3 separate regions of the Homo sapiens genome follow, and all the other regions are linked to region 2. The links come from fine-mapping of genetic effects on gene expression. A gene starts in region 2. Each other region holds a variant in brackets. All regions are shown on one strand. Distances are from middle to middle.

Region 1 (7,005 bases), 67 kb before region 2:
TTATTGCAGACAATGAGAATAAATGTTTACAAGGTGATGCAGCTATGCTATGTGAATCACCAAAGATTAAATAATCATCAGTATACATTTGTGTGACATATTTTTGCTTGTATTTTATAGATGTAAAAACAAATAATTCATCTATAATAAAAATGATTGGCTGGGCGCAGTGGCTCACGCCTGTAATCCCAGCCCTTTGGGAGGCCGATGTGGGCGGATCATGTGGTCCGGAGACCGAGACCATCCTGGCTAACATGGTGAAACCCCGTCTCTACTAAAAATACAAAAAATTAGCCGGGCGTGGTGACAGGTGCCTGTAGTCCCAGCTACTCGGAAGGCTGAGGCAGGAGAATGGGTGAACCCCAGAGGCGGAGCTTGCAGTGACCTGAGATCGCGCCACTGCACTCCAGCCTGGGAGACAGAGCAAGACTCCATCACAAAAAAAAAAAAAAAAAAAAAAAAAAAAAAAAAAAAAAAAAAAAAAATCGCACTTTCTAGAATTCTAGCTTGTTTGCAACACACTATTCCATGATGACAATGTCAGATAAATTAGCTTTCTCTATTAAAAAAGAAAAGCACTTTCTGGTTTAAATTATGGATTATGAAAAGTAAATGGTTTGTGGATAAACTGAAGATGCTTTTGCCAAAACTAGAATTTTTTAAAGAAGAAAATGATTTGGAAAGGTTGTTCCTACAGCTAGAATTTCTCAAGAGTTGAAGCAGAGCCTTTATATATTTAAATTAAAGTGAAAATAGAAAGTTTAAAATATCCCTCTTGCACCTTTAAAAATAAAGACTCCACTGTGTTCATTCAATCATTAGAGTCCTTTGGTTCACAAGTTCTACAAGTGATTTGTCTGAAGGGACTGAATTTTTGTAACTGAATTAATGACCTATTTTGATCAATTATCTCTATACCTAAAGAACCTCAGAAATTACCCACGTCAATATACTCTCTCAAGTGGCTTATTTTTCAAAACCTTTCTCACATTCCTACTTGTGTTTAGTTTGATCTTTAAATAGAATGTTATATAAAATGCTTCTTGAAAACTGTAGTGCTTGAAAAAAATTCATGGAATAATTAAAGCAATATTCTTAAACAAAATAAAATAACATGAAGAAGTGAGTAAACTTCTTTAAAAATCATTTTGGCTTTTTTGTAGCAATTTCAAAAGTCTATGTTACTGGTGCTCTTATAGAAACAGTACTACTCCACTTATTTGGTACCTAATTGTTCCTGCTTCTGGATTGTTATTGTTCCCTAGTTCCTTCCTATTCCTCTATCACAACTTAACTCCTGTGCTCTGCAAGAGACTAAATCATATGACTTTTGATGTTTTCTCTGTTGATAGTTCCTGTTAGGAATAAGATGGGGACAGAAGCTGAAGCTACTTACAGAAAGGAAACAAATGGATTATTGGTTGAAAATTATTACCTATCAAGTTATAACCCCAATCACATCGATGACCATGACCATCATGCTCAATACTGCACCTGGTGTGGAGACTGGCATGGTGTTCAATAAATATTGGTTGGATAAAATGACTCCTATCAGTCCTGAGTCTTGCTAATATGCATGACAAAGGCAGATTGTATAAACATGGCAAAATCACTGGAATATTAATCATAAGACCGAATTGGTCAACAATATAACACTGGACAAGATGCTTTGTTTATCAGGTCATGGCTTTTAAATTTTAAAATGAGTCTCTTGGACTGGAATACTACTTCAAAAATATTTTTATCTGTTTGTTTTTGTTTTAGTAAGGGGGCATTATATTAACAAGATATCTTACGTGGAATATCAGCATCTTTATACAACTATTAGAAGGAGAACACATTTGGTTTCAAACAAGATCAGAAACCCTCCTACTCTTTGTTGACTATCCTGCACTGCTTCCTCTCCTAGCATGAGTCTTCAGTGACCTTTTTTTGAACTCTCAAGCTCCAGAGAACACAGTTTGAAAGCCAATGGGCTTAGTTATTTTAAGATGCTTGTTTGAAAATTTTATGACCAACAAGAAAAGATGGCATAGTGAAGAAAAAACACACAGTTCTCAATGATAGTTGGAATCAGGCTCTACCCCTGAGCTATGGTTGGAATATGTTCCCAAAATTTATATATTGGAAACTTAATCTCCAATGCAGCAGTGTTAGGAGGTAATGGTTACCAGGAAGTGTTTACGTTATGAGGGCTGCATCCTCATGAATGGATTAATACTGTTATTAAAAAGGCTTCACGAGTGGGTTCACTCTCTCTTGCCTTTTGTCTTCTGCCATATGAAGATGTAGCAAGAAAGTCCTCACCAGACCAATTGCTGGTATCTTCCTCTTGGACTTCCCAGTATCCAGAAATATGAGATAGTAAGTTTCTGTTCTTTATGAATTACTCAGTCTCAGATATTCTGCTATAGCAGCACAAAATGGACTAAAACACCCTACATTACTCCGTGACTTTGTAAGTCATTTCTTGTCTGTCAGATAGAACTACCCTGCCTAATAGTGGTGTACTGATCAATGACTATATAACTTAGGAAGTAATTGTTCTGATTATTGCTAGAAAGCAAATTTCCTAAAACTTTTGTGGTTGAAATAGCACCTCAAGATTGTGTGGGTCAGGATTTCCAAAGCGTTTCCTTAGAGGAATTTTCTGTTTGCTTGAAGGTATTCAGCTGGAAAATGGGCTGGTTAGGATTGTCCACGTGAGTTTCACTCACATGTCTGTATTCTTGGCAGTGAAACAGGAAATTTACCCTGACTGCTTCGCGGGCAGGAACTAGAGTGCCGGCACTGGAGCTAGCTAGCTGCTTCAGCAACAGCAGGGGCAAACTTCACTCACTGGAACCTACTGTGCTCAACCCCTCGCGGGAAGGAGCATGTGGGTGCAGGAGCCGGGGCAACTGCTTCTGGGCACCAGCAGGAGCACAACTCCATGCGGGGCCTGCAGCAGCATCTAGTGGGGGGCACTCCCCCTTAAGCCCAAAAAGAAGTGTTACAGTCAGCAATCCTTTACCATTGCTGTCTGCAGACGGCTTATGTGTTAGCAGCTCAGTGTAGGGTCAGTGTGACACCTTTTGCATGCACCCTCTTGGCACCCAAGTTCTTGTCTAGCATTCAGGAGGAATTAGCTCACATAAGTGAGTTGAAGATGGTAAAGGTGGGGGATTTTATTGCTGGTGAAAGTGGCTCTCAGTGGGAAGGGGAGCTGAATAGGTGATGGAGCAGGAAGGTGATCTTCCCCTGGAGTCCAGTTGTCTAGGTTGGACTCCTCTCTGAAGCTACCCCGTCAAGCTGTCCCTCTGAAGTCAAATGCTTCTCTCCAACGTTCAAACATAGTCTCTGATGTCCAACTGTTTTTCCTCTTCTCTCTCTGCTGGCAGAGCCTAGGATTTTTATGGACACACAATGAGGGGTGGGGTGAGCCATGGGTGGTTTTGGAAATGTCAACATTTGAGTGGGAAAACAGGGATGTATGTTCTTACCTTGGGCTGTGGTTCCAGGCTTGAGGGTAGGGCCCTCGCTGGGGACCCATCCTCTTCTGCCCAGAATTTCCGTGCCTCTTGTCCCTATCATTAGGGATGGATGGATGACTGGAAGCCTGGACTCAGTCGAGACTGGCAACAGGAGTGCCTACCCCAGTTCTTTCCAGCATGACAGACTCAGGC[C/T]GAAGTCTCCAAGAATAATTTTCCAGCAAATGGGGCAGAAGCTGTATGGCCCTTTATGCCCCAGCTCTGGAAATCACTTAGCATTCCTTCTGCCATACTCTACTGGCCTAAGATTTCACAAGCTTGACAAGGTTCAAGAGGGAGGAATGGAGACCACACCTCTCAATGGGAAGAATGTCACAGAATTTGCAGCCATGTTTTAAAACTATCAAAGTTATTATAATCTTTAGAATCTGCCTCTTACTGCGTAAGTCAAGAAAAATTGATAAGAGTAATAGAATTCTCTCCACTGTCATAGGAAGAGAATATTGCAAGGGTCCACACTTTCTTGCAAATTTTATATTATGATTAAATGTACCATGCTGAACCAAATGCCAGGGGTCTCTTGAGTGCTATCCTTCAGGCAAGACTTTCACCTGTGCTATAGAATGTTTTTGGCAGAATTATTTGCCATCAGTATCCTTCAATATAAACAAGGCTTTTCTAGTAAGAAAGTGCTAACTCACTCAAGCATTGTTTAAAGCTGCTTTTGGGAATGACTCTTACAGTTCCTGGTATGTAGACTTTGTTATGCAACTAGAATCATTTGAATTTTTGTTCTTGCCTCCAGTTATACCAGAAACAAATAAGTTAAAATTCTAGAATGTTTGTTGTCTGGAGAAATATATTGAACACACTTTTGGACACAGCTTACTCTTTTAAAAAAATGTGCTATTATGTGGAAAGATAATTTAAAAGTGTTTAGGAGGCTAAGTTATATGTTGTCTTTGATACCGATAAAATGGACTTGGCTGGACTTTTCCTAAACAGATGAACGGTATCAAGGAGTCTCGTTCCACCACCGAAAGTCATTTTTTTTTTTACTTCTACTAATTCCACATATCTCCTGGAGAATTCTTCTCCTTGTGTGGAATATATAACTAAGAATTTTAAAAGATACATTAGGGAAAACAATATTGGGAATCAAATCAGAATACTTTGATGGAGAATTGCCATAGAATTTTTCGTAGAACTAAATATGAATTATTTTTCTTGTGTCTTGCACAAGACCACCTTATACCAAGTGGGTCTGCAGTCAATGACGATATAACCACCAAAATGTCTCTTTAGTCACCACAGCAGTCTCTAAAACTACCAGTACAGGTTAAGTCCTTTGTTTAAATTAAGGTAACTGGTCAATTAGAGTTCTTGCTACCCTTGGAGAGGTAACAATGAATAATTATCAGCAAGTGCTGCAGAGCTCAGTATTATTATCTGGGTAACTTGGCATCACTGAAGAGAAGGGAGGACAGTGTTCTGAGAGCTTGTAGCACAGGGAAGATAACCACAGCAAGGAGCACTGCTGGGATGACAGACCAGAGACACCACAACAGGGATCCTTGAACTCCAAGGGGTAGCAACAGGATATTGCAAGCAAGAGACACAGAGAGAAAAGCTGGGATGGAGAGCAAGATGGAAGGGTACACCATGATAAATCCTGCTTGTATTGTTTTGTATAAGGTCCAGCCTATCTCTATATGTGTCCAGTTTAGGAAAATAAAAGAACCTAGTCAACACCTTGGTTATGATTCACTCAGCCTCTCTATTTTTCAGCCTTACTAGGCAAACTATAGACAGGATTGTAAAGATTTGATGAAATGGTATACCTAGCAGTATCTGCCAAAAAAGAAACACTTCATAAGAAGTTCTTCAGTTCCCAGAAAGAAACAGATGGCACATTGCAATGAATTAATTTAAGAGTGTTTTGAAAAGGGACTTTTTATAAAAAAGACATGGATAGAATATAGTGAAAACTCAAGCTCAGTACAGCTGGCCACAATGACTACCTGAGGCCCACAGACGGAAGAAAAGGGGCAGTTGTGAGAACCTGGAGACAGAGAATAGTGTGAAGCGAGCTGCCTGACTGGAAGCCAGACAAAGCCAGTTTACAGCAACCCTGCAGTGGGGAGCTGATATGGTGTGGTTGTATCCCCATCCAGATCTCCTCTTGAGCTGTAGCTCCCATAATTCCCACAGGTAGCTCCCAGTGGGAGGGACCCAGTAGGAGATAATTGAATCACGTGGTAGTTTCTCCCATACTGTTCTTGTAAGTCTCATGAGATCTAATGGTTTTATTAGGGGAAACCCCTTTTGCTTGGTTCTCATTCTCTCTTGCTGCTGCCATGTAAGAAGTGCCTTTAGCCTTCTGCCATGATTGTGAGGCCTCCCCAGCCACGTGGAACTGTGAATCCGTTAAACCTCTTTTTCTTTATAAATTAGGCAGTCGCAGACATGTCTTTATCGGCAGCATGAAAATGGACTAATACAAGAGCTGGGGGAATAAACACTCCAACCTCTTCCTCCTCTCTCCTTTTAGCTCCCACTGGTTCTCTTCACTGACCACATCCAACTGGAGCTAAAGGGTAAGGAAGCCCACTCGTGGTATCCATATAGGTCAGCCTCCTAGGGGCACAAAATGGGGTGTGTGGAGATTGGATTTGGAGGGGCAAGTGGAAAAGGAAGCTAACACAGTATCCATAATAGTAACAATAATTACTATTTTTATTTTTATTATTCCAGCACCTGGCACCAGAATACTGAATGCTTAGCATAATGTCTGGAGCCTGGATGTGCAATAATAATCTGTTGAACGAATGAACAAATTCCTGTCCACGATTGCATCTGTAATGCAAAATGTTCACCACTTGCAGAGTCCAATTAACAAAAGCAAGAGCTAATACAAAGAAAGTGACTTTGTATTGCAAAGATAACTTATGGGAAGAAGTACAGGATTCCTGCCTTAAGGGTATTACTTTGCTTCTGGAGAGAATGTGGGTGCTTTTAAAGGGGGAGACCTGCACCGAGGTGGAAGTAAGCAGGTGCGGGGTCTGCATACTTACTTTGGTGACTTATCTACTGGGCAGTAATGTTAGCATCTTCATAGGCAGAAATAGGTTGTAAAGGTGGCTAAAAACTCTCATGGATATACTTTGGGTTATAAATTGACTGTTATTTGTCAAGGCAACCTTCTAGTGGGTGAGAGATCCGCTCTGGAGGTTCTAAGCACATAGATGAACTTGTCCTGTAGGAAGTGTCTGGTGAAGAGGAGGTAAAAGGCTATAATTGCATCTCTAAAGAGCTAAGTAGGAAGTGAAGAAAAGGAGGAAAGAGAAAATAAGGGAGAGAAAAATAATTAAACTATCTTGTAGAAAAATGAAGGTACTCAGTTAAATATCCATTAGACATTAAACCAGGTTGATATTAAAAGATGCCGAAGTATAAGTTGTTTAAAAAAACACAAGGGTTAGTTTCTACATAAAAGAAATCTGCCAGCTTGGTCAACATGGTGAAACCCTGTCTC
Region 2 (7,005 bases):
ATATCATATATATACCATATATATCATATATATCATATACACCATATATATCATATATACCATATACATCATATATATCATATATACCATATACATCATATACATCACATATACCATATACATCATATACATCACATATACCATATACATCATATACATCACATGATATATATATCATATATATCACATATGTGATATATATCATGTGATATATATCATATATATCACATATGTGATATATATCATGTGATATATATCATATATATCACATATGATATATATCATATGTGATATATATCATATATATCATATATATCACATATATATCATATATATCATATATATCACATATATTATATATCATCTATATGATATATCACATATATATCATATATATCATATATATCATATATATCATATATATATCATATATATGATATATCACATATATATCATATATATCATATATATCATATATATATCATATATCATATACATGATATATATATGATATATATATCATATATATATCATATATATCACGTATATGATATATATATCATATATATCATGTATATGATATATATATCATATATCTCATATATATATCATATATATGATATATATCTCATATCTATCATATATATGATATATATCTCATATATCTATCATATATATGATATATATCTCATATATCTATCATATATATATGCCTTGTTCTCATTCCACTAGTTGTAAGTGCCTGGAGGGCAGAGTAAAACAGCATAATGTGGCATAGAAAAACATCAGTGTTTGAAGACATGAACTCTAACCCTGATTTTATTCTTTATTACCTATATGACTTTAGGCAAGTCACTTTACTTCCTAGAACTTTATTTTCTTCATCAAAAACTGGAAAGCCAATGAGTACAGTGGTTAAAAGCCCAGGGTTTGCCATCCTGGCTGTAATGTGTTCTAGGTTTGTGATCTTGAGAAAGTTACTTAACTTCTTTGGGCCTGTTTCCTCCTATGTAGAAAGGGGATTTATTTCTTCAGCATTCATTCTTTTAACAAATATTTTTTGAGCACTTTGATCAGCACTGTGCTAAGTCCTGGGAATATACTGGAGAGTAAGACAGACAAGGACCCTGACTCACATAGCTTACAACTTAACAGTGGACATAAATATTAAACAGACAACTACATCCATAACCCAGCACATAGAATTATTGTGACAAATCCTGTCATAATAAATTTTCCTAGTACGCACTAACCTTGTCCAGGAGTGTCAGGGAAGACCTCCTCAGAGAGGGCATACTTGGGATGAGCTCTGAGGGATGAGTAGGCATTACCAGATAAAGAGGCCCTAGAGACGGGAAAAAGCAGGGCTCTTAAGTAAAGGGATGCCAAGGTGGCTAGAACTGAGTGTACAAGGTCCTCCCTACCTCACAGGTGTTCAAAGATTAAATGAGGTAATTGGTGGTATACACAAGTGACACTTTGAGAACCACTTAAGGTCCTAAATGCCTGTTGACCAAGTTGAATTTCCCACAATACTCAGCTTTAGGCCCTGCACAGAATAACCTCTCCATAATTATTTGATAATATTTTATATTTTTAGGGTGAGAAAAGGACTTTGAAAATCTCCATCCTCTCATTTAACAGGGGAGGAACTTAGGACCAAAAAAGAAGTAGCAGCTGTCTAAGAAATGGGAGGAGCTGGCTGGGCGCGGTAGCTCACGCCTGTGATCCCAGCACTTTGGGAGGCCGAGGCCGGTAGATCACCTGAGGTCAGGAGTTCAAGACCAGCCTGGCCAACACGGCAAAACCCCGTCTCTACTGAAAATACAAAAATTGGCCGGGTGGTGGCAGGGACCTGTAATCCCAGCTACTAGGGAGGCTGAGGCAGGAGAATCGCTTGAACCCAAGAGGCAGAGGTTGCAGTGAGCTGATATCGCGCCACTACAGCCTGGGAGACAGAGTGAGACTCCGTCTCAAAAAAAAAAAAAAAAAAAAAAAAGGGGCGGGGGGGAAGGGAGGACCAGAGCATGCTTTTGTTATGTTTTGCCATGAAGGCAGTGGGTGTAAGAGGTTAACCTGCAGGCACCTCACAAGATGACGGAGATAACTTGGCACTCCAATGAGTGTATCTTTCAGACTTTAAGATTTTGTACTAAATAAATTGATTCTTGGAATAGTCTTGAGAGCGAGTCAAAAAGTAACTTCAATGAGATATAATATTTTCAAAGCAAACACACCCCAGCACAATAGCCTATCTCCATTTACGTAGAAGTTAGTACATATTAATTCCTCTTCTCCTTCCTGCTTTTTAAATGTGTGTAGGCCCCTTTTTTATGGAATTAATAATAATTATAAATGAAGTAGCAACAACGATAACAGCTGACTTTATCAGTGTGTGTCCCTGTCAGGCAGGGTTTTTACCTCCATCATCATAGCACATTCGATCCACCGCTATATTAAGAGGTAGGTCTTGATTATCTTCATTTCATAGATGAGGAATTGAAGGAACAGAAAAGTCTAGTTACTTGACCCAGGCCCTAGAACCAGGATTTGAATCAAGTCTGATGCCAGAGCTTGGGATCTTCATTGCATTTGATGTGATAATTCATTTGTGAAAAAACAAAGCAATTCATTTGTTTTCATTTGTCAAAAACAAAACAAAATTTCAACTAAGATAACTGTTGAGCTCTTTACCGTTAAAATAAAATCGGGTGTTGAAATGAGTAACAGCAAGCCTTGAGAAAAGACACCCTGAGAAGTCAAGAGGATGCATTAACTGTCTACAGATGAACAGAATCTCTTCTCTTCTTTGAACAAGAAAACCCAGCAGTAACTTTTATCTAGGTTTCACATTTCAGGAGTTACAGTAGGGGTAAACCAAAACAGGTTAAAAAAAAAAAAAAAAAAAAAAAAAAGCAAAAGCCCAGCAAGCTGAGACATCAGAGTCCTTCAGAAGGAATGATTTGCCGTCTTCTCTTCAGGACATCCCCTCTTTAGGAGGACAAATTTTTTCTCCAGGGAAAGGGGCGTCCGCCTCAGAAATGGGGGTGTAGGTGAGGGATCTTGTTGCTTTAACTGTTTGTTCATTAATCCCTGCACTTTACTAGATTTAGTTCTGCCTGTTAACGTAGCCTCAGGACACTTGGCTAGGAAGGCTGGAGTGTACTCTCTGGGTTAGTTATTTTGGGACATTCTCGCCCTGCTGCTTGGGATGAAGAGGTCCTAATTAAATACCCGGACCTTCCAACGGGTAGATTTTCAAAGAAGATGCCCAGCTATGCTGCATCCTCATCCACACTCTCCCGCTCCCCCCAAACTAGTGCAAAAAAGCTTGCCAGGGCCTGCAGAAAGCGCCGCGACTGCGAGGCTGACACGCGTCTTTCCTTCCCTCCCCCGGGGAATGATCCCAGCATCTCTCGCAGTGATGTCAGTGTAATCCTGAGTCGGATCGGGCTCCCGGCTGGGTGGCGGGGGGGCAGATGATGCTCCCGCCAGCTGGGCAGAGCAAGGGTGTTCCCCGCGGAGGTGGCAGCCCTGGGCCGCGGCGTTCCGGAACCCCCGCACCCACGGCGCGGTGCCCCACGGTGCCCGCGAGCGCCGCCCCCGCTGGCTAGCCGCGCCTCGCTCCGCCCTGGACGCCGCCGGTCCCGGCGCGGAGGTGCGGCGGGGAGTGGGAGCCGGCCCGGCTCAGTCTGATTTACGGCTCTGCTGAAAACCGCTTCGCTCCCGCAGCATCAGCACCGGAGGCGGCGGCTGCAGCAGCAGCAGCAACAAGTCGGGTAAGAGGCGGCCGCCGGCCATCTGCGCCCGCGGCTCGGCGGAGGGGACCTGCCGGGGTGGCCGGGGCTGGGGAGGGGGTCCCCGAGCCCGCAGCATGGCGGGGAGTTGGGAGAGCCGGCTTCCCGGCCCCCACCAGCAGGAACTCATGTGCACACGAATCCACTCTGGCACCCGTGGGCTGGCACGCAGCGGAGAGGGGGCGGGGAGAGCTGGGACCCCGGGGCAGGGTCATTGCCAGCCTGCCCTTCTCTGGCAGAGTCACTTAGGGCTCTTCATCAGCCCAGTGGACTGGGTTTCCTCTGGGCCCATAAAAGCCTGCGTGCTCTGGAGTGTGTGATTACCCATTTCCCCATCCAAAATGCCACCCTTTTCCCATTGCCCCCTTAGAATCCTGACTTCCCCTTTCCTTACCTCTTGTCAGCGTCTTTGGCCCTATGCTGAGCCAGGGTTTGCATCTCGTTCCCAGAAAACCAGTGGTTAAACATCCCGGTGTACCCATCACAGGAAGAGGTTCCCCTCTCTGGGGGCCGGGGGCTTCACCTAGAAGCCTTGCCTGCCTCGCTGCCTGGGGACCATTTGCACCTCTGCTTTTGAAGAGGTTGAGGACACTTTTCACCCAAAGACCCCAGCTGGGCTCCCTCATTTCGGGTCCAATGCTTGTTACATTTAAGTAGAAACCTTTCATGGAGGAATAGAAGATATGCACTGCTTGCAGAATTGGGTTGCCAACAGTCATCTGTTGCTAGGGTGAAGATAATGCATTCCTACAAGGAAACCAGAACTTCCTGTTATTAAGAGAGTATGCTGATACCTACCTGGTTCACACACTGACCATCCCTAGAGGTTGTCATATAAAATAGCATCTGAGACAAGACAAATCCGTCCAGAACACTCTATTATAATAAAAATCTTGGCCATGGCCCCACTTATGCCAAATGGTATTTGACACATTGGGTCCCCAGGTTTCAGTGAAACTCACGTATGGGGTCTGTTATTGTTACGATTAGCACTTTGGTTTATGTCATCACAGCAATACCTGAAGGAAAAAAAGGCAAAAATTTCAGGGTGAAAAATTTTCAGCTGATTGCAGGCTTAATGCCACTGTGCATAGCTTGAGTAATCTTTCCTGTACTTGAGGATAGGTCCTGAGCTTGCTGTCTTAGGACCCATTTTGACAATTCATGTGAGTTTTCATATGTTCTTGTGTTCACGCATCTCGGATTGTATCCTTAAAATGGGGCACGGTTTTGCATTTAGTGTGCCAAATTCAGGAGGGGAGGAAACTTGAATTCCACTTCTGGATCTACCACTTTCCATCTGACCTTGGATTAATGGCTTTACTTCCTTGCTTCAGTGTTCTCTTCTGTGGAGAGGGAATGTTACCCACCTTTTTGATTCTAGGTAGGAGTTGGCAAACTTTTTCTGTAAAGGTAGTAAATATTTTAGCTTTTAGGAGCATAGAGTCTCTGTCTCAGTTACTCACCACTGCCATTGTGGTTTACAATAAATAATACAGAAATTGATACGGCAGCAGTAAATAATGCAGAAATTGATGTGGATGGATTTGGCCCATGGGCTGTAGGTTTTAAGTGCAACATAAAATATTATGTGCAAAAGTCACTTGAAACCAAAAAGCCTCTGCTGTCATGGAGATGAGCAGCAATCATTTTAGTAGTGTGTTTTTCAGCCGACTTGTAAACTACCTATTTCCCCCCTCCCAGGACTTTTAGAGTAATGCAACAGAAGGCTTTTGAGGAAAGCAGATATCCCTGGCAGGAGTCCTTTGAGAATGTTGCTGTGTGCCTGCCATTACGCTGCCCGAGGTGTGGAGACCATACCAGATTTAGAAGCTTGTCATCCTTGAGGGCCCATCTGGAGTTCAGTCACAGCTACGAAGAAAGAACCCTCTTGACAAAATGCAGTCTCTTTCCATCCCTCAAAGACACAGACCTAGTCACTTCCTCAGAACTCCTGAAACCGGGAAAATTGCAGAGCAGTGGCAACGTGGTAAAGCAGAAACCGAGCTATGTTAACTTGTACAGCATTTCACATGAACATTCCAAGGACAGGAAGCCATTTGAGGTGGTGGCAGAGAGGCCTGTGTCCTATGTGCAGACCTACACTGCCATGGACCTCCATGCAGACTCGCTGGATGGGACACGGTCGGGTCCTGGACTGCCCACCTCAGACACCAAAGCTTCTTTCGAGGCACATGTCAGAGAAAAATTCAATCGAATGGTTGAGGCTGTGGATAGGACCATTGAGAAGAGAATTGATAAACTCACCAAAGAGTTGGCCCAGAAAACTGCGGAACTGTTGGAAGTTCGGGCAGCTTTTGTGCAGCTGACTCAGAAAAAGCAGGAAGTTCAGAGACGAGAGCGGGCCTTAAACAGACAGGTGGACGTGGCCGTGGAAATGATAGCTGTACTGAGGCAACGCCTGACGGAATCTGAGGAGGAGCTTCTTAGGAAAGAAGAGTAAGTGTTGCTGACAGGGGATGCTAACCCCATTGCTTTAAGCAGCACCCCAATCGCCTTACAAGCAAATGCTAAGCAAGGTTGATTTTTGCTATTTGCAGGTGCCTTGACTGCATTTCTTATTGATATAGTTGAACCAGGAGGAACAAGGCTTTGATATCATTTACCCTCTGTGTGCACGGTCTGCAACCTAGCAGCATTAAAGTCAAATATCTAATTCCTTCTCAACTGGGAATTTGTAAACCACAGACTATGCTTTTAGAGAGAAGACTAGCACAGCCTAGCCATGGTGGGATCCATTCCTAGCACCAAATGGCGTGCAAGGGTGAGTTGAATGGGAAGGCAGAAAGGGTGAGCTAAGTGAGCTGTTCATTCTTGACAGTCTCCGTATTATAAAGTCAATGCAAGATGCTGTCTTAAGTTCAAAAACATTCCTCCAGTATAAATAAGTTTGGTTTATTTGCCATTTTGTATTATCTGCCCAGGTTAATTAAATGTTAGTAGCTGAGAATCCATTTAATTTAATTTATATTTGGGAGAAGCAGACATTAGGGCACCCAGAGGAAAGACTTTCTGATATTGCTATACTTCTATGATTTAAGTTTGAGACTTGACTTTTTGGCAAATGATGTATTTTTTTTTGTTATATTTAAGTTTTGCCCACTTGCAAAGAGTTGAGATTGGTTTTCACAAGTTATAGATCATAGAAGCTATTGCTTGAGAAATCATCATACTTAGAGAAGCATTT
Region 3 (7,005 bases), 62 kb after region 2:
GATTTCCAAATATATCAGTAAGATTGATGAAAATCAGGAAGAAGACCACTTCTTTATCTCAAATAATATGAAAAAGTTTCAGTCCCCAGAATATTCTCTTGAAAGCCCTAAAATGTACATGGAGATCTTTCCCAGTAAACCCAAATTAGGCATTAACTCCTCTCACTTTTCATTTATCATGAGATTTAACAAACTTAAGGATTTGTCCACAGCAAAACCACTCCACACTTTGGGTTTTCCCTAAAAACTCAGATTATCAGGGAAATCAAACCAAAAGGAACTTCAAATTCATCCTAGATCATGGACTGTTCCTTGTAGAACCTACTGCTTGATATGAAGTTTGATTTGGATTTGTTTGAACAGGAATAAAAACTGAGGTAAAGGAAAGGCTACAATAACTCCAATAGAAGTAATGAGTTACTAAACAGTTTAATGAGTTTTGGAGGCCCCTGAAATTTGGGTTCCTGAAATGAATTCTCTCAGACAGTAGACAAATGACTCACCAACTTTGGCCATCGAGGCGGGCTGAGTCATCTAAAGTCAGCTGAATCACCTGCTTTCAGCTCTGTTTTATAAGAATTGGGGCTGGCTGGATATTTCTGTCCCTCTGATTGCAAGTATTAAGCATTTAAAAAAACAGAGAATATGATGTCCTTCTTAGGAAAACCACACAAATTGCTCATGCACAGATGGACTGCATTAGTGAAAACAGATTAGTAATTGCTTTTAGTTCCTGATGATGAAAAAGTGGCTCTGAACACCTACCTCGCTGGATTCTTTACTCACCAGATAAACCAAGTGATACTTGATGACGATCCAGATTTGGATTTAAGAAGCAGAAGGTCAACTCCACAGAGCTCCAAGTCAGGTTGAGAGCATCCTGAGATGGCATCGGTAGAGCTTGCCTTTAAATCCTGGACCCCAATCCAGGCCAAACACACATTATGATTGGAGTTAAAAAAAATGTTTTCACAACAAGGAAATATTGAAATAAGTCAGCTAACATTTTCATTTGGAAATACAGAGGAAGTTAAGGCGTTTTGGGGGTGCTTAGTTTCCTTGTGTGTATTTTTATAGTTTTTTAGTGGGATGGAGATTTAGTGGAGGCAGGCTGGTACAAGGGAAAGAATCCAGGTCCAGGAACTGAAGATTCTTAGTGAGCTGTGTGACCCAGATGTACTTTCAGGGCTTTCTCAGACTTAGTTTCTTCTGCTAGTAAATGAAAATGTGTGTGTTAGTGTTTCCTAAACCTGCTTGAACATAAGGATCACCTGGGGCACGTGTTAAAAAAATCTGAATGCACTTGGCCTCACCCAAACCTGTCGGAATCCGAATCAGCAGGGTGAGGCCTGAGAATTGATATTTTAACCAGCACCTTGGGTGATTTTTTTGTTCAGACAAGTTTGGGAAACATTGAATTAGATAATCAGTAAGATATGCTTCGGGTCTAAGATTGCTCAGTGGTGCTTCAACACAGCAAACCTTATTTTTTTTTTCTCCCTGTAAATTGGAGAAACAACAATCAAATGAAAAACAAATCAACTGATGGGTGGAGAGGTTTTGGTGGGGCTAATGTGCAACTTTATCACAATGCTTACAAACGTTTGTGGGTATACTTAACCTCAGGTGCTCAAGGACTGTGTGTTGTCCCTGCTCTAAATTGATACTTCCTCTTAGGAAGGGCCTGAACAATTCATTCATCCTAGAATGAAGAGCCTTCTTGCATTTTCTCTCTGGCATATTAATATAATTAGATGTCGGTGGGACTGAGACTAGCAGGGAAAGCACTGAAAGCAGTCAATGACTTTACCTACTTGGAAGACTGCACGGAACCGGCTCCACTTGAAGTAGGAAAGCCTGCCTCAGAAGGACAGTGAAATAGGACATTTCTCCCCTAAGCAAGGAAGTATACTGGAAATCAGAACAAAATTAGTGTTGTCATTGCAGAGTGCAAGCTCTGGGCAGCCTCCTTAAGCTGTTTTAATCTCTTCTCACAAAGTCATCTGCTAACAAGGGACATTAGAATAACCTCATTCAGAAGAGTGAAAACTCATCAATCATACATTTCTTCTTTTAGTATTCAGTATTATTTATTGAGGAAACTTATTTATTCATGTCTTCAACATTACTTCTTGAATCCTCCCATGCATCAGACACTGTTTCAGACCCTCTGGATACAGCAATGAACAAGATGGGTTCCTGAATGCATGGAGCTTGAATTCCAGAAGCAGAGATAGACAATAAAATCTGACAAATAAATAAGACCATTTCAGAGGGTGGAAAGGGGTATTTTGGAAACTAAATAGAGAAACCAACTTAAAGAATGACTGGCTAATGACAGACTAAGAAAGATCTTAGTTTATAGGACTTGCTGAGATTTGGGAAGGACTATTTAGACATGATCTTCTTCACTCACAGATGAGCATGTGTCTCTGCATTGGTGGGTGAAATAATTGAGGTCCAGGGAGGATAAAGGACTGACGAAGGAAATGGCAAGACCAGCACCCAGGTCTAGCGTTTGGAGGTAAATTTTTTTCTGATAAACTTAACCTTCTGAATAATACTCCCAAGAAGAAGGTTTCATTTTTTGCCTCACACATGCCTGAGATATATTTATCTGAGTCCTTTTGTATTCAACACTAGCTCTGGTTTAAGTGATGAAAAAGGTTAGAGATCTGGAATAGTGCAAGGCTCTCCACCCTAAATGCTGCAGAATGTTAGTAGCCCATTTTCAGGAGATTAAAGGATAACACTCGGCCAATAATAGCAAGATACCATAGACTTTTAATATCATCTGACAAAGACTATGGAAAAATGGCTTGTTCCCAATCAAGGGAGATCTATAATGGCTTGATCATCAGAAATGAAAAATCAATCCCAATTCTCATCCATTCTTTTAGCTACCATGCATATTATTTTTACCATGGATATTTACAGCTACATTTCCATCCAGACTTCTGGCAATGCCTAAATTCTTCCATAACAAGAAAACAAACTCATTTCTTTTAAAAACCAGTCTCTTCCCCATAGGCAAAGTGGATAAACAGCCTACTCAAATTTGATGTCATTATCTGAAATATCTAGCAAAAGACTAGTTGTATAAAAAATGATATTTCAGCATTGGTGCAAAAGAAGGCTACCCATTCTGACAGTTCTGTGGTATTTTGTCCTTTTAACTTAATGCTTGGAATGTAGGATTTCACACCTGAGACTCTTCAAAATTTTTACTTCATGGGTATTTGGTTTTTTTTGTAATACCGTAATACTTTAAGACTGTTACTTTTCTTTCTTATTCAGCCTTACTGATGCACTGGTCTGAAC[G/A]TCTTTGTGAGTTTCACTTATATATATATAAAGGAGCCACCACCATCTAATGTATTATAAAAGATACTATAATTAGCGTGTAACTGGCAATCCCACCAGGCAAGCAAGCAATTTTCCAGGCCATGGGAATTTTCTTCTAGACAAATAGGAAAGTTCCAACAGCCATATAAATTAAATAGGGTAAAAAGTTGGTTAACTGGTACTAAAGTAACTAGAACCCTTAATTAAACTAAGTGATTATTTTGGGGAAGTTAAAAGAGGGTACAGGGAATCATTCTTTATATTTAGGAGAAAAAAAAGCCACTGGCAAAAAAATAAATAACAATTGAGATTTAGTTACACAATAAAATTATAGAACATATCCAGATTTGTAATAACACATAAAAATATAATGCTAAAAAGGATAATTTTGATGCTTTACAAGACCTTAGTTGTTAATTAGGTTCATTATTTCATTAAGGCAGGAAGATTTTCACCAAGAAATTTTTATTCACTAAGAAATGAATATTTCCTGAAGCCTTTTGAATCTTGCCAGCACCCTTCATGACCAACATCATTGCACTTACTAAGTTCCTGCTTCTTGTTGAGCAGAGCCAATTAACTGAAAAAGCTAATGATGGAAGGACAACCAATTGGGATCTAGTAAGATCTAGCCCTGTAGCTGGTAACATTGTGCCAGGAATTTAATATGCCTGAGCAGGCTCATCTGTAAGATGGTTATGATAGTACTGTTTATATCATAAGTTGGTTAGGAGGGTTAAATGCCTAGCTCAATGCACCGTAAACAACGAGTGCTCCAAAAAATGTGGCTAGCACACACACACACCAAGCATTTCAAACAAGACCTATAAGCAGATGGACTTCTGACTATAAACTTTCTTATAAATTCCACATAAACTCTCTCTAGCTAAGAGGGAGAGTCAAATACCACATTTAAATGTATGTATGAGAAATGTATTCTCTGTTTCCAGTGATTTCAGAATCAGAGATCATTTTGGATGGTTTATTTTAAAGTCTTCCACAATCTATACCCATAGATACAAATATATGTGTCTGTGGGTGTTTTGGAAAATAGGATTGGGTGGAGGCAGGGAAATGTATGTGGTTGAATTCAGTTAAGCAACTGGCTGTTTTGCGACTAATGATTTGTAAGTAGCAGTTTGGCTGAATTTAACTTTTTTTGTCTTTAAAAAATGTAGTTTTCTGAAATTTATCTAAAAAAGTTGATCTATATCAAGCTTTAGGGTAACTTCGTCATGGTTTCCTTGCTTTCTGGAAATTCTACGCACGTCATAGAGTAAATGTCAAATTTTAAATAGGAAATCAATATTCTTCTCTAAGAGGCTTTGAGAATAAATAGCTATTTTAATTCTTTCTCAGGAAGGGATTTCATAAGGAATTGTAATGACGGAAGCAGACAAAGTTTAAAGCGAGTTTTTAGCAAGTTATTTACATCTCATGTTATGTTTTCCAGGCAGTTAACAAACAGCCAGATCATCAGAGTAAGGTGTAACTCATAAAGCTTTTTCCTTCTAAATTCACACATATACGTACGTGTGTGTGTGAATAGTATATGCAATTTAAAGGTTGTGAGATTGGTAGCAAATGCACTTTTCTGTAAATCTCCTGGCTTCTTTTCCTTCCTTTGACCAGAAACAAGCAGCCCTGATAATTATATTCTCTACCACTAGGGGGTGACAGCTGATAATCTATCCACATACTTTAAAGTAAGACAAACCACAGGCTTGATTATGTAGGTATTAATCTTTCTTTTATTGGTCGCCTGGTGAGATTTGGTTTGATGAGTTTTATTTGCTGAACACGCTCTACATCCAACATCATTCTTCTGTCGTGATGCATAGCATGGGCCTGTTGGAATAACAGCTGGTGCTGGACAGCTTTGTAGATTTCAAGTAACTGTGTATGGGAAATTAGTTAACAGATAGGAGCATTTATTCACTCATGCATTCATTTCATAAATATTGAGAGTCCACAGATCCTGTGACAAGGACTGAAGATACAATGGAGAACAGGAATATTATATCTGTTTTCATACAGTATTTTCTTGTTTTTGTTTTTGTTTTTTTTTTTTTGAGACAGAGTCTCACTCCATCACCCAGGCTGGAGTGCAATGGCTCTATCTCAGCTCACTGCAACCTCCGCCTCCCAGGCTCAAGCGATTCTCGTGCCTCAGCCTCCCTGGTAGCTGGGATTACAGGCGCAGCAACCATGCCAGGCTAATTTTTGTATTTTTAGTAGAGATGAGGTTTCGCCACATTGCCCAGGCTGGTCTCAAACTCCTGGCCTCAAGTGATACACCCGCGTTGGCCTCCCAAAATGCTGGGATTACAGGAATGAGCTACCATGCCCAGCCACATAGAGTTTTTATTGAAAGGGGAAAGACTACAAAAACCAGGTAAACAAACACATACATAAAGTAATTTTGAGTGTTAACAAGATAGATAAAGGAAAAAAACATGAAGGGCAGATACAGAATAACTGGCATTAAGGAAGAGATATAACATTAGATCAAGTCACTCCCTTATCTAAGGCCTTTGCTATTCTCTTATGTAAGCAGAAGATTCAGAGGCACACTGTGCCTTACTCCGGGTGCTTTCCACTTGAATAGATTCTGGCAAAATCCTCATAACTCAGCATTTCGGTGCCTTTGAAGCTTGCAATAGCTGATGAATGGTATCTAGCACCAGTATCCTTCCTCAGTATGCTTCTCACAGTACTTAGAAAGCTTTATTAAGGTAGGCATCAAGCAGAAAGAATTTGCCTGGTCTCTATTCCTTCTGCATTACAGCCTCACTAACTTGCAAGCATTTTGTCTAATTAGCTAGAGTGCTTCTTGAGAAATACACACACAAACACATTTCAAATAGAAAATAGTGCTCATTTAAGGTCATTTAGCATGGAAAATAAAATTATTCTAATGGTATGAATATCGGTAAGACTATCACCTTGCTGTTGTTGATACTACACTTATGGTTTCTGGTCAGTATAGATATTTTAATTCCATTTCCCACTTTCTTAGTTTTTCTCCCTTACTTGAAATCTCCTTCATCTTTACCAATTTAAATTCTTCTCATCTTTCAACTAATAATGGGTCTATTCTTTCTCTTCTCGGTCTCTGTCTTCCTCTCTCTCTTTACATTTTCCTCATGCCATGTGTATTCCTTCATTGTGTTTATTCCAGAAGCACTCACGTGATTGAGCAATTGATTAAATAATCTTTACTTAGAATTTTATGATTATTTCAACTCTAGCAAAAAAAAAAAAAAATGTTGACTCACTACCTAACAATGCCTCCCTTTCCCAGATTCTCTTGCAGCTAGGGATGGGATGTGTAGCTCGGTTTAGCCAATGAAGCATAGGGGAAATACACTGATATCTTCTGAGAAAGACATATTCTTTATAACAAAGATGGGAAAGCATATGTGCAAGCCCTCTAATAGCTGTGGCTCTTCCTTTGCCCTGACTTTGCATGAGGTTATAAAGGATTTAATGTCTGGATCTGCAAAATTATCTTGTGAACAAAATGGGAAACCCAAGGGACTCTTGAAGATGTCAACCCAGTGACCTTGACAATGTGGAGCTGGTAAATCAGCTCTGAAATGACCATCCTCCAGCTTCTTATATCTTCTATTACTTAATTTAATGTCTTTATTGTTTATGCCA

Which allele goes with the higher level. Positions count from the first base shown, and alleles are read on the strand shown. Sizes are in standard deviations (SD) of each study's normalised expression. Not every link is listed here.
For the expression in sun-exposed skin of the gene that starts at base 3,690 in region 2, allele A in region 3 goes with a lower level than allele G (large effect, 0.88 SD a copy in GTEx).

The links. PIP is the estimated chance that this variant, and not a neighbour inherited with it, causes the effect.
Region 1: its variant is fine-mapped to the expression of ZNF365 in lung (TOPMed, PIP 0.99).
Region 3: its variant is fine-mapped to the expression of ZNF365 in sun-exposed skin (GTEx, PIP above 0.99). The same link has a PIP of 0.9 or more in unexposed skin.

The regions. Positions count from the first base shown.
Region 1 is chr10:62,304,084-62,311,088 of GRCh38, forward strand. No RefSeq gene overlaps it. Among named protein-coding and RNA genes, the nearest start is that of RTKN2, 39 kb to the left of the region's middle. The variant C/T (reference allele first, on the strand shown) is at 3,666.
Region 2 is chr10:62,370,680-62,377,684 of GRCh38, forward strand. It overlaps ZNF365 (zinc finger protein 365), which reads left to right and starts at 3,690. Exons shown (of 5, transcript NM_014951.3): 1 at 3,690-3,779; 2 at 5,502-6,257. The coding sequence starts at 5,515. LOC283045 (a long non-coding RNA gene) reads right to left here and starts at 4,448. Exons shown (of 4, transcript NR_104162.1): 1 at 4,192-4,448.
Region 3 is chr10:62,432,793-62,439,797 of GRCh38, forward strand. It overlaps a transcript of ZNF365 not described here. Among named protein-coding and RNA genes, the nearest start is that of ZNF365, 62 kb to the left of the region's middle. The variant G/A (reference allele first, on the strand shown) is at 3,322.